4 linked regions of the Homo sapiens genome follow. The gene in region 1 interacts genetically with each later gene. Each region holds a gene or a part of one and is shown on either strand. Other genes may lie near its edges.

Region 1 (3,500 bases):
CAATGTATCAACATTCTAGTGTAATAAATGAATTTGGCTGGGCGCGGCAGCTCATGCCTGTAATCCCAGCACTTTGGGAGGTAGAGGCAGGCGGATCATGAGGTCAGGAGTTCGAGACTAGCCTGGCAACATGGTGAAACCTGGTCTCTGCTAAAAATACAAAAATTAGCCAAGTGTGGTGGTGTGTGCCTGTAATCCCAGCTACTAAGGAGGCTGAAGCAGGAGGATTGCTTGAACCTGGGAGGTGGAGGCTGCAGTGAGCCGAGATCACACCACTGCACTCCAGCCTGAGCAACAGAACAAGAGTCTGTCTCAAAAAAATAAATGAATTTGGACATTTCTTTGGAGCAATCAGATTTAGAATTACTACCTACTCATGAACTAACATCCTATCCATTTTTAAGACATGTAGTCTTTCTTAAGAAAATGACCTCCAAAATTTGACATTAAAGCTATAATACTGTCACTGACAAATTCAAAGATAAAATACTTTTTTTTTCTTTTTCTTTTGAGACAGAGTCTTGCTCTGTTGCCCAGGCTAGAGTGCAGTGGTGCAATCTCAGTTCACTGCAACCTCCGCCTCCCAGGTTCAAGTGATTCTCCTGCCTTAGTCTCCCTGAGTAGCTGGGACTACAGGTACACGCCACTACGCCTGGCTAATTTTTGTATTTTTTAGTAGAGACGGGGTTTCACTATGTTGGCCAAACTGGTCTCGAACTCATGACCTCAGGTGATCTGCCTGCCTCAGCCTCCCAAAGTGCTGGGATTACAGGCATGAGCCACCGTGCCAGGCCAGATAAAAGACTTTTTATGTGCTATAATGTGGGATATGAATCTCTGAAGCTCCAATACAATACAGAGGCATTCATAAGATTTTAATTAAATAGAGACATATTAAAAGATCATATTTCTTTTATGTTACTTTAATTTTTTGAGATGGAGTATCACTCTATGGTCTAGGCAGGAATGCACTGGCACAATCTCGGCTCACTGCAACCTCCACCTCCCGAGTTCAGGCGATTCTCCTCCCTCAGCCTCCTGAGTAGCCAGGACTACAAGCATACACCACCACACCTGGTTAATTTTTTGTATTTTTAGGAGAGACGGGGTTTTACCATGTTGGCCAGGCTCTCTTGAACTCCTGACCTCAGGTGATCCATCCACCTCGGCCTCCCAAAGTGCTGGGATTACAGGTGTGAGCGACCGCGCTCGACCGAAAGATCTTATTTCTTACATCAAAATTCAGTAATCTGGCTGGGTGCGGTAGCTCACGCCTATAATCACAGCACTTTGGGAGGACGAGGCAGGCGAATCACCTGAGGTCAGGAATTGGAGACAAGTCTGGTCAACATGGTGAAACCTCATCTCTACTAAAAATACAAAAATTAGCCAGCTGTGGTGCCGGGCTCCTGTAATCCAGCTACTCAGGAGGCTGAGGCACGGGAATCGCTTGAAGCCGGGAGGTGGAGGTTGCAGTGAGTTGAGATTGTGCCACTGCACTCCAGCCTGGGTGACAGAGTGAGAGACCCTGTCTCAGAAAAAAACAAAAACAACAAAAAAAACTGGCAGTGATGCAAACCATTTAAAACTGGGACTGTTGGCCGGGTTCAGTGGCTCACGCCTGTAATCCCAGCACTTTCGGAGGCCGAGGCAGGCAGATTACCTGAGGTCGGGACTTCAAGACCAGTCTCACCAATATGGTGAAACTCTGTTTCTACTAAAAATACAAAATTAGCCAGGCATGGGGGCGCATACCTGTAATCCCAGCTACTCGGGAGGCTGAGGCAGGAAACGCTTGTGGTGAGTCGAGATCACACCACTGCACTCCAGCCTGGGCAACAAGAGTGAAACTCTGTCTCAAAAAAAATAATAACAAAAAAAACCCCAAAAAACTGGGACTATCTCTGCAAGTGTGAGATATACATGGTCACCAGAGACATGCATGATTACAGCTGGAGGAATGGTTAAGAGCAAAAACCAGAGGGAGGCCAAGCATGTGTCTCCTGCCTGTAATCCCATGACTTTGGAAGGCTGAGGCGGGAGAATCACTTGAGCCCAGGAGTTTGAGACAGTCTGGACAACATTGTGAGACTCCATTTCTACAATTGGAAAAAAAAAAAAAAAGGCTGGGAGTGGTGGCTCATGCCTGTAATCCCAACACTTTGGGAGGCTGAGGCAGGCAGATCACCTGAAGTCAGGAGTTTGAGACCACCTTGGCCAACATGGTGAAACCCTGTCTCTACTAAAAATACAAAAAAATTAGTCGGGCGTGGTGGCCTGCGCCTATAATCCCAGCTACTCAGTAGGCTGGGACAGGAGAACTGCTTGAATCCAGGAGATGGAGGTTGCAGTGAGCCGAGATCACGCCACTGCACTCCAGCCTGGGCGACAGAGCGAGACTCCGTCTCGGAAAAAACAAAAAAGGCTGGGAGCAGTAGCTCACATCTGTAATCCCGGCACCTTGGGAGGCCAAGGCGGGCGGATCACCTGAGGCCAGGAGTTCAAGATCAGCCCGGCCAACGTGATGAAACCCTGTCTCTACTAAAAATACAAAAATTAGCCGGGCATGGTGGCGTAATTCCAGCTACTTGGGAGGCTGAGGCAGGAGAATTGCTTGAAACTGGGAGGCGGAGATTGCAGTGAGCCAATATCACACCACTGCACTCCAGCCTGGATGCGAAGAGTGAAACTCCGTCTCAAAACACACAAACAAACAAACAGGCCAGGCACGGTGGCTCACACCTGTGATCCCAGCACTTTGAGAGGCCAAGATGGGCAGGAGTTCAAGACCAGCCTGGCCAACATGGTGAAACCCCATCTCTACTAAAAATACAAAAAAATGGCCAGGCACTGTGGCTCATGCCTGTAATCCCAGCACTTTGGGAGGCCGAGGTGGGCAGATCACCTGAGGTCGGGAGTTCGAGACCAACCTGACCAACATGGAGAAACTCTGTCTCTACTAAAAACACAAAATTAGCTGGGCATGGTGGCACGTGCCTGTAATTTCAGCTTGGGAAGGCTGAGGCAGGTGAATCGCTTGAACCTGGGAAGCAGAGGTTGCGGCGAGCTGAGATTGCGCCATTGTACTCCAGCCTGGGGAACAAGAGCGAAACTCCATCTCAAAAAACAAAACAAAATGAAACAAAAATACAAAAAAATTAGCCGGGTGTGGTGGCAGGCACCTGTAATCCTAGCTACTTGCAAGGCTAAGGCAGGAGAATCGCTAGAACCCGGGAGGTGGAGGAGGCAGAGCAAGATTCCATCTCAAAACAACAACAACAACAACAACAACAAAAACACGCTGGACGCAGTGGCTTACGCCTGTAATCCCAGCACTTTCGGAGGCCAGGGTGGGTCACCTGAGGTCAGGAGTTCGAGACCAGCTGGGCCAGCAAGGTGTAACCCCGTCTCTACTAAAAATACAAAAATTAGCTGGGTGTGGTGGTGTGTGTCTGTAGTCCCAGCTACTCGGGAGGCTGAGGCAGGAGAATCGCTTGAAC
Region 2 (3,254 bases), on another chromosome or scaffold:
ATTATAATTTTTTTTTTTGGTAAAGACAAAATGTCTTACCATGTTGCCCAGGTTGGTCTCACTCAAACTCCTGGCCTCAAGTGATCCTCCCACTTTGGCCTCCCAAAGCCCTGCGTTTACAGGTATGAGCCACTGCACCCATTCCCTTTGCTGTGTTTTTCTGTGCTTATGTGTAGCTGCCAGAGAAGTCAGTCCTTGGCAGGCCTTTTTTTTTTTTTGAGACGGAGTCTCGCTCTGTCGCCCAGGCTGGAGTGTGGTGGTGTGGTCTCAGCTCACTGCAACCTCCATCTCCCGGGTTTAAGCAATTCCCTTGCCTCAGCCTCCCAAGTAGCTGGGATTACAGGTGCCCGCCATCACGCCTGGCTAATTTTTTTGTAGTTTTAGTAGAGATGGGGTTTCACCATGTTGGCTGGGCTGGTCTTGAACTCCTGACCTCGTGATCTGCCCACCTCGGCCTCCCAAAGTGCTGGGATTACAGGCGTGAGCCACCACGCCCAACCTTTTTTTTTTTTTTTTTTTTTTTTGATACGGAGTCTCCCTCTGTCGCCCAGGCTGGAGAGCAGTGGTGTGATTTCTGCCCACTGCAACCTCCACCTCCTGGGTTCAAGTGATTCTCCTGCCTCAGCCTCCTGAGTAGCTGGGATTACAGGCATGCGCCACCACGCCTGGCTAATTTTTTGTATTTTTAGTAGAGACGGGGTTTCACTGTCTTGGTCAGGCTGGTTTCAAACTCCTGACCTCGTGATCTGCCCGCCTTGGCCTCCCAAAGTGCTGGGATTACAGGCGTGAGCCATCGCGCCCGGCCGGTCCTTGGCAGGCTTTCTAAAGCAGAATTTCACAGCTTCTTACTCCAGAGGATGGATTAGGACTGGTGCCAGTGAGACTTCTTTGGGAGAGCCCTGGCCATCTCCTGGCTGCTGCTGTCCAGGGGCCTTTAGGACAGGCTGTACCATCTTTTAGAATTACCATGCTAGTTCTTTTAGTGATTCAAATTTCATCTCATTAAAGGATTTTAGAGCTGAAAAGACAAACACACCAAGGCTCACTTTTGGAAGGTTACCAAAAAATAGTGATTGCATGTAAAACGTTTTAAGATTTTTCCTTTGGAAATTAAAAGACAAGTAGTGTGATTGAATGTGCTCTTTGCCTGTGGCGCTGGGAGTATTTGGGTTTGCTCTAGCCTGCAGAATAGAAAGGAGGGGCTCTTGTCCCTTCTTGGGGGCAGGGTCCATCTTTCAATATTGCTGTTTAGGTATTTCACTGCTGTCAGCTGGGAAGTAAATGGAGGAGGAGGACTTCTCTAAATACCTTACTGTGGATTCATAACTTCCCCCCTTTGAATTCTATGGCCTTTCAGGTCTGTGGGAATGTATTTGGGATAATAAGGCAGGAAACAAGTGTGAGATGCTATCTTGTCTGTCAGAGGGCCAGCCATGAGAACCATCAGAAAAAAGTGGGCATACCAGGTTGCATTCTCCATCTAGCAGCCTGTGGTCACAGCAGCAAGATGTCTGGCTTTCCCTAACTTCAACCTTCAAACCATTTGTTCATCCCATTTAATTTTTAATTTTTATTTATTTATTTATTTTTGAGACGGAGTCTTGCTTGCTCTGTTGCCCAGGCCGGAGTATAGTGGTGCGATCTCAGCTTACTGCAACCTTCGCCTCCTGGGTTCAAGTGATTCTCCTGCCTCAGTCTCTCGAGTAGCTGGGATTACAGGCGTGCGCCACCACACCTGGCTAATTTTTGTATTTTTAGTAGAGATGGAGTTTTGCCATGTTGGCCAGTCTGGTCTCAAACTCCTGACCTCAGGTGATCCACCCCCTTTGGCCTCCCAAAGTGCTGGGATTACAGGCATGAGCCATCATGCCCGGCCCATCCCATTTAGTGTCAGTTTGTTTTAATCAGTATTTGATATTTAGATACTGACATGTTCAAATTCTATCTATCTGTAAAAAATGTTTTTTAGGTAACTTCCTAAATTATTTGTTTCTGTTAGAACGTTTGTACAGAATGATTTTAAACAGAGGAAACTTGTTTATAGATGCCCTTTAATGTCATCAAATATTTTCTTAAAAACCTTTATGATGTTTTTAATGCATTGAAACAAATTGTTCCAAAAAAACCAAATCAACAGTCTTTAAAATACTGAATTTTAGATAATGAAAAGAAGTGAAATGCTGAGGAGGCAGAGAAAAAAAATTTGAGAAATTACCTGATCATGGTAAAAATATCCTGACAGGACCAGTGGTTAGACAGGCAGAACTTCCTCGGGAGAGCCCCGCCCCTTCTGTGGCAAATCCTGTCTCCAGTTTCCTGCACATCCTACTCTGTGTTCAAAGGTTTCCCTGTGAGAGATTAGTTCACAGTTGCTGACACCTCACAATCTCCCTCACAACCTGCAGGAACCGTTACTTTGAGTTGTCAGAGGGTCATTCAGCTCATAGCTACTTTTCATAAACCATCCTAAAAATGTTCTTTATTGACTTGTAGATTTGTAAAAATTGTATCTGTTTAGGAAGGTGAACCTTCCGGAAAGAGAAAAGCAGAAGATGATGATAAAGCAAATAAAAAGCATAAGAAGTATGTGATCAGCGATGAAGAGGAAGAAGATGATGATTGAAGTATGAAATATGAAAACATTTTATATATTTTATTGTACAGTTATAAATATGTAAACATGAGTTATTTTGATTGAAATGAATCGATTTGCTTTTGTGTAATTTTAATTGTAATAAAACAATTTAAAAGCAAGTCTCTATGTTTAAGAAATCTACTTTTCCGGCCAGGCGCGGTGGCTCATGCCTGTAATCCCAGCACTTCGGGAGGCCGAGGCAGGTGGATCACAAGGTCGTGGTGGCGGGTGCCTGTAGTCGCAGCTACTCGGGAGGCTGAGGCGGGGGAATTGGTTGAACCCAGGAGGCAGAGGTTGCAGTTAGCCGAGATCGCGCCACTGCACTCCAGCCTGGCGACAGAGCAAGACTCTGTCTCAAAAAAAAAAAAAAATCTACTTTTCCCAAAGCGAACTGATTTTGTTAATGCTTTAAACAAACAAAGTCTTAGGTCTCAGTGAATTCCTGCTGCTCTCTCAACCCCCTTCCTCTCATTCCCCACAAAGAAGCCTTCTGGGCCAGGCTGAGATTCTCTCACAATTCTGGAGACTTGGAGTCCAAAATCAAGGTGTGGGACGGCCATGCTGCCTCTGAAGATTCTTGACAGGGATCCTTCCTTGCCTCTCAGTTTCTGGTAGTTCC
Region 3 (3,500 bases), on another chromosome or scaffold:
CACTTTGGGAGGCCGAGGCAGGCAGATCACCTGAGGTTAGGAGATCGAGACCATCCTGGCTAACACGGTGAAACCCCGTCTCTACTAAAAATACAAAAAATTAGCCGGGCGAGGTGGCGGGTGCCTGTAGTCCCAGCTACTTGGGAGGCTGAGGCAGGAGAATGGCATGAACCCCAGGGGGCGGAGCCTGCAGTGAGCTGAGATCACGCCACTGCACTCCAGCCTGGGCGACAGAGCGAGACTCCATCTCAAAAAAAAAAAAAAAAAAAAAAAAGAGATGGAGTCTCGCTCTGTCACCCAGGCTGGAGTGCAGTGAGTAGCTGGGACTACAGGCGCCCGCCACCACACCTGGCTAATTTTTTGTATTTTTAGTAGAGACGGGGTTTCACTGTGTTAGCCAGGATGGTGGCGATCTCCTGACCTCGTGATCCACCCACCTCGGCCTCCCAAAGTGCTGGGATTACAGGCACGAGCCATCACGCCTGGCCATGCCTGGCTAATTTTTGTAATTTTTTTTTTTTCTGAGATGGAGTTTCACTCTTGTTGTCTAGGCTGGACAATGGCGTGATCTTGGCTCACTGCAACCTCCGCCTCCAGGGTTCAAGTGATTCTCCTGCCTCAGCTTCCTGAGTAGCTGGGATTACAGGCATGCGCCACCACCCCAGCTAATTTTGTATTTTTAGTAGAGACGGGGCTTCTCTATGTTGGTCAGGCTGGTTTTCAACTCCCAACCTCAGGTGATCCACCCACCTCAGCCTCCCAAAATGCTGGGATTACAGGTATGAGCCACCATGCCCGGCCAATGCCTCCCTCTTTATCTTCCTCCTCTGTCACCTCTTCTTGGTAACTTCATGGGTCCCATGGGGAAGTACCCAACTCGCTGGCCTTAGGGGTCATTCCCTGTTGGGGAGCTTGCCCACTCATCACTGCACCCTCTTCTTATGCTTCATATATTTTAAGCTTCTTTGGACTACTTCATCCCCTCACCTGGCCCCTGTAAACTGTCAGTGTTCCTCTTGGCTGGCACCCTTATCCAGCCCAGCCTCCACAGGTTCCCTCTGCAAACACTCCCTTTCCCCTTGCTGTTGGCAAAATCCCCCACTCTGGTTACTTCCAGCTTTTTTTTTCTTTCTTTTAGAGATAGCGTCTTGGCCGGGCGCGGTAGCTCACACTTGTAATCCCAGTGTATTAGGAAGCCAAGCCAGGCAGATCATTTGAGGTCAGGAGATTGAAAACAGCCTGGCCAACATGTTGAAACCCCGTCTCTACTAAAAAAAAATACAGGCCAGGCGCGGTGGCTCACGCCTGTAATCCCAGCACTTTGGGAGGCCAAGGCGGGTGGATCACGAGGTCAGGAGATCGAGACCATCCTGGTTAACATGGTGAAACCCCGTCTCTACTAAAAATACTAAAAATTAGCCGGGCATGGTGGCATGCACCTGGAGTCCCAGCTACTCGGGAGGCTGAGGCAGGAGAATCACTTGAAATCGGGAGGAAGAGGTTGCAGTGAACCGAGATTGCGCCACTGCACTCCATCCTGGGCGACAGAATAAGACTCCGTCTCAAAACAAACAAAAAAAACCCCCCCAAAACAAAAATTAGCCGGATGTGGTGGCGGGCGCCTGTAATCACAGCTACTTGGGAGGCTGAGGCAGGAGAATCGCTTAAACTCAGGAGGTAGAGGTTGCAGTGAGCTGAGATCACACCACTGCACTCCAGCCTGGGTGACAGAGTGAAACTCAGTCTCAAAAAAAAAAAAAAAAAAGATACCATCTCATACATAGCTCATTGCAGCCTCAAACTCTTAGGCTCAAATGATCCTCCTGCCTCAACCTACCAACTTACTGGGACTATAGGCACACACCACCATGCCCAGCTAATTTTGTTTGTTTTTTGTAGAGAAAGGGTCTCCCTTTGTTGCCCAGGCTGGTCTTGAACTCCTGACCTCACGTGATCCTCTTGTCTCAGTCTCTGCAAGCACTGAAATGATAGGTATGGCTTTCTAGCTCTTTAGTATCACTGCACTTGAGGGCCGAACACTCCTGAAGAGTATTCCCATCTTGCTCCTCACCCTTTTGGAGACGGAGTCTCGCTCTGTCATCCAGGTTGGAGTACAGTGGCACAATCTCGACTCACTGTGACCTCCGCCTCCCAGGTTCAAGCAATTCTTTGCCTCAGCCTCCCGAGTATCTGGGATTACAGGCGCCCACCACCAGGCCCAACTAATTTTTTTTTTTTGAGATGGAGTGTCGCTCTGTATCCCAGGCTGGAGTGCAGTGGCATGATCTCGGCTCACTGCAACCTCCGTCTCCCAGGTTCAAGCAATTCTCCTGCCTCAGCCTCCCGTGTAACTGGGACTACAGGTGCCGGCCACCACGCAAGGCTAATTTTTGTATTTTTAGTAGAGACGGGGTTTCACCATATTGGTCAGGCTGGTCTCGAACTCCCGACCTCAGGTGATCTGCCCGCCTCAGCCTCCCAAAGTGCTGGGATTACAGGCGTGAGCCACCGTGCCTGGCTTATTTTTGTATTTTTTTTTTTGAGATGGAGTCTTGCTCTGTCACCCACGCTGGAGTGCAGTGGCGCGATCTAGGCTCACTGTAAGCTCCACCTCCCGCGTTCACGCCATTCTCCTGCCTCAGCCTCCCGAATAACTGGGATTAAAGGCACCCGCCATCACGCCCGGCTAACTTTTTGTATTTTTAGTAGAGATGGGGTTTCACCCTGTTAGCCAGGCTGGTCTCAATCTCCTGACTTTGTGATCCGCCCACCTCGGCCTCCCAGAGTGCTGGGATTACAGGCGTGAGCCACCATGCCCAGCTAATTTTTGTATTTTTAGTAGAGATGGAGTTCCACCATCTTGGCTAGGCTGGTCTTTAACTCCTGACCTTCTGATCCACCTGCCTCAGCCTCCCGAAGTGCTGGGATTACAGGCATGAGCCACCACGCCCGCCCTTGCTCCCCTCTTCTGAACACAAATCTCCAATGGGCACTTGATGATCCAGACAATTCTGGTTCCCCCTGCTACCTTAATAAGTGTTTATGTGGTATTTTCTCCCTCCTCAAACTTCTATCCCATTCACTGCTGAGACCCTTGCCTGTTCCTTGGTGAGAAAGAGAAGCCATTGGCTGCCAACACCCTCATCTCTGCCCGGGAAGTGCCCCAATTCCTCCTGTTTCCCTCCCAGTCCCTGACCCTGGCAGCGCCCAAGTTCTGGGTCTGTATGCTGGATGGAGCTCATCCCACCTGAGGACTGTCCTCTGCCAGCATCCTCACTCTGCAGCATCTCTTTATTTTATTTTATTTTTATTTATTATTTTTTGTTGAGTCTCGCTCCGTTGTTCAGGCTGTAAAGCAGTGGCGCGATCTCGGCTCACTGCAAGGTCCACTTCCCGCGTTCACGCCATTCTCCTGCCTCAGCCTCCGGAGTAGCTGGGACTACAGGTGCCCGCCACCATACCTGGCTAATTTTTTTGTATTTTTAGTAGAGATGAGGTTT
Region 4 (3,500 bases), 200 kb from region 1:
TGTGCTAAGCAAGGGGGTATGGAGAGGAGAGGGTGACAAGAATATTGGATCAACACCCGGGAGCTCCATCTATCCCAGGATGCACTATCTTTTTTTTATTTTTTTGAGACGGAGTCTCACTCTGCCTGCAGGCTGGAGTGCAGTGGCTCCATCTCGGTTCACTGCAACCTCTGCCTCCTGGGTTCAAGCGCTTCTTGTGCCTCAGCCTCCCAAGTAGCTGGGATTACAGGCACATGCCACCACACCCAGCTAATTTTTGTATTTTTAGTAGAGACGGGGTTTCACCATGTTGGCCAGGATGGTCTCGATCTCTTGACCTCAAGATCCGCCCACCTTGGCCTCCCAAAGTGCTGGGATTACAGACATGAGCCACCGTGCCCAGCCAGATACGCTATCTTTTTATTGAGTGATTGAGACAGGGTCTTGCTCTCTTGTCCAGTCTTGAATGTGGTGGTGTAATCACAGGCTCACTGCAGCCTTGACCTCCTGGGCTCAAGTTACCCTTCTGCAGTAGCTGGGACTATAGGAGCGTGCCACCACGCCTGGGTAATTTAAAAAATTTTTTTTGTATAGACAGGGTCTCACTATGTTGCCCGAGCTGGTCTCAAACTCGTGGGCTCAAGTGATCCTCCAGTTTTGGCCTCCCAAAATGTTGGGATCACAGGAGTGAGCCACCACTCCTGGCGATGAGCCAAGTCTTTTTTTTTTTTTTTTTTTTTTGATATGGAGTCTTGCTCTGTTGCCCAGGCTGGAGTGCAATGACACGATCTTGGCTCACTGCAACCTCTGCCTCCCAGGTTCAAGCAGTTCAAGCAATCCTCCTGTCTCAGCCCCCCAGTAGCTGGGATTACAGGCATGCGCTACCACGTCCGGCTAATTTTTGTATTTTTAGTAGAGATGAGGTTTTGCCATGTTGGCCAGGCTGGTCTTGAACTGCTGACCTCAGGTGATCCACCTGCCTCGGCCTCCCAAAGTGCTGGGATTACAGGTGTGAGCCATCGTGCCTGGCGGAGCCGAGTCTTAAAAGATGACCCTGTGGAGAAATGGTGGTCCAGGCTGAAGGGACAGCCTATGCAAACACTGGGAGGTGTGGAAAATCATGACCTGTGGGTGGAAATTTTGGCTAGAACATCAAAATCATCAGGTGTACATTCCTGTACCCATGCAGCAGTCAGAATCTCTGGGGGTGGGGCCCCAAAATTGTATGCATACAGACTGTGTGCTGATTTGTGATATTACTTAGGATTTTTTGACTTTACAATGGTGGAAAAGCAATAATATACATTCAGTATAAACCGTACTTTGAATACCCATACAGCCATTCTGTTTTTCACTTTTATTTTTATTTATTTATTTATTTATTATTTATTTTGAGATGTCATTTTGCTGTTGTTACCCAGGCTGGAGTGCAATGGCGCAGTCTTGGCTCACCGCAACCTCCACCTCTCAGGTTCAAACGATTCTCCTGCTTCAGCCTCCAGAGTGGCTGGGATTACAGGCAGGCACCACCACACCCGGCTAATTTTGTATTTTTAGTAGAGACGGGGTTTCTCCATGTTAGTCAGGCTGGTCTCGAACTCGAGAGCTCAGGTGATCTGCCCATCTCAGCCTCAAGCCACCATGCCCAGCCCTACTTTCAGTATTCAATAAATTACATAGCCAGGCACCGTGGCTCACACCTGTAATCCCAGCACTTTAGGAGGCCAAGGTGGGAGGATCCTTTGAGGCCAGAAGCTCGAGACCAGCCTGGGCAACATAGTGAGACCCCATTTCTACAAAAAATAAAAAAACTAGCTGAGTGTGGTGGCGTGTGTCTGTAGTCCCAGCTACTTGGGCAGCTGAGGTGGAAAGACTGCTTGAGCCCAGAGGTCAGGGCTGCAGTGGGCCATGATCTCACCACTGCACTCAGCCTGGGCAACACAGCAAGGCCCTGTCTCAAAAATAAATAAATAAATAACACAAACTTATTTAACAGTTTACTATAAAATAGGCTTTGTGTCAGATGATTCTGCCCAACTGTAAGCTGCTGGCAGTGTAAATGTTCTGAGCACGTGTAAGCCAGGCTAGGTGTCTTAAATGCATTTTCAGTTTCAACTTAGAATTGGTTTATCAGGACGTAGCCCCTTGGTGTTGAGGGGCATGTGTATTAACAGTCTCCTTAGTGACTTTTTTTTTTTTGAGATGGAGTCTTGCACTGGCCGTAGTGCAGTGGCACAATCTCAGCTCACTGCAACCTCTTGTCTCCCGGGTTCAAGCGATTCTCCTGCCTCAGTCTCCCAAGTAGCTGGGATTACAGGCACCCACACCACGCCCAGCTAATTTTTGTGTGTGTGTATTTTTAGTAGAGACGGGGGTTTCACTATGTTGGCCAGGCTGGTCTCGAACTCCTGACCTTGTGATCTGCCCACCTCAGACTCTCAAAGTGCTAGGATTCCAGGCATGAGCCACCGCGCCCAGAGTCCTTAGTGATTTTTACACCATGAATTGTTGAAGCCCTAAGCCAGAGCCAAGGGCAAGAGTATAGAGAATCTGGAGATGCGGAGAGGGTTCTGATTGCCTACAAGGAGTTTGGACTTTATTGTGGAGGCAGCGGGGAGCCAAGGCAGGTTTTAGAGTAGGAGAGGGTCCAAGCCTGTGGGTCACCCTTCCGACTTCCCTTTCCGAATGCCAAACACCTTCATGTCCCCCGTGGGCCCCCTTTGTCCCTCCCACCCCAAACTAGCCCTCAATCCCTGACCCTGGCTTCCGCCCCCAGCCCTCTGACGTCCATCATCTCTGCGGTGGTTGGCATTCTGCTGGTCGTGGTCTTGGGGGTGGTCTTTGGGATCCTCATCAAGCGACGGCAGCAGAAGATCCGGAAGTACACGATGCGGAGACTGCTGCAGGAAACGGAGGTGAGGCGGGGTGAAGTCCTCCCAGCCCGCGTGGGGTCTGCACCGGCCCCCGGCACTGACCCACCACCCCCTCACCCCAGCTGGTGGAGCCGCTGACACCTAGCGGAGCGATGCCCAACCAGGCGCAGATGCGGATCCTGAAAGAGACGGAGCTGAGGAAGGTGAAGGTGCTTGGATCTGGCGCTTTTGGCACAGTCTACAAGGTCAGGGCCAGGTCCTGGGGTGGGCGGCCCCAGAGGATGGGGGCGGTGCCTGGAGGGGTGTGGTCGGCAGTTCTGATGGGAGGGGCAAGAGCTGGAGGCAGTGTTTGGGGGAGGGCAGTTACAGCGGAGAAGGGAGCGGGGCCAAGCCCTAGGGTGGTGAAGGATGTTTGGAGGACAAGTAATGATCTCCTGGAAGGCAGGTAGGATCCAGCCCACGCTCTTCTCACTCATATCCTCCTCTTTCTGCCCAGGGCATCTGGATCCCTGATGGGGAGAATGTGAAAATTCCAGTGGCCATCAAAGTGTTGAGGGAAAACACATCCCCCAAAGCCAACAAAGAAATCTTAGACGTAAGCCCCTCCACCCTCTCCTGCTAGGAGGACAGGAAGGACCCCATGGCTGC

What was found. Genes that interact genetically often act in the same process or in processes that back each other up.
Region 2: changes in CDK12 (region 1) and LEO1 together harm fitness more than expected from each alone (negative genetic interaction), as found in Homo sapiens cells (one large-scale study listed by BioGRID).
Region 3: changes in CDK12 (region 1) and GET3 together harm fitness more than expected from each alone (negative genetic interaction), as found in Homo sapiens cells (one large-scale study listed by BioGRID).
Region 4: changes in CDK12 (region 1) and ERBB2 together harm fitness more than expected from each alone (negative genetic interaction), as found in Homo sapiens cells (one large-scale study listed by BioGRID).

The regions. Positions count from the first base shown.
Region 1 is NC_000017.11:39,520,486-39,523,985, reverse strand, and holds part of CDK12 (cyclin-dependent kinase 12), read right to left. Parts: intron 1-3,500. UniProt on the Homo sapiens protein: Cyclin-dependent kinase that phosphorylates the C-terminal domain (CTD) of the large subunit of RNA polymerase II (POLR2A), thereby acting as a key regulator of transcription elongation.
Region 2 is NC_000015.10:51,937,525-51,940,778, reverse strand, and holds the end of LEO1 (RNA polymerase-associated protein LEO1), read left to right. Parts: intron 1-2,493; coding exon of another isoform or gene 2,494-2,518; coding exon 2,519-2,623; 3' UTR 2,624-2,754; downstream 2,755-3,254. UniProt on the Homo sapiens protein: Component of the PAF1 complex (PAF1C) which has multiple functions during transcription by RNA polymerase II and is implicated in regulation of development and maintenance of embryonic stem cell pluripotency.
Region 3 is NC_000019.10:12,740,497-12,743,996, reverse strand, and holds part of GET3 (ATPase GET3), read right to left. Parts: intron 1-3,500.
Region 4 is NC_000017.11:39,720,564-39,724,063, forward strand, and holds part of ERBB2 (receptor tyrosine-protein kinase erbB-2 isoform a precursor), read left to right. Parts: intron 1-2,755; coding exon 2,756-2,894; intron 2,895-2,974; coding exon 2,975-3,097; intron 3,098-3,348; coding exon 3,349-3,447; intron 3,448-3,500. UniProt on the Homo sapiens protein: Protein tyrosine kinase that is part of several cell surface receptor complexes, but that apparently needs a coreceptor for ligand binding. Essential component of a neuregulin-receptor complex, although neuregulins do not interact with it alone.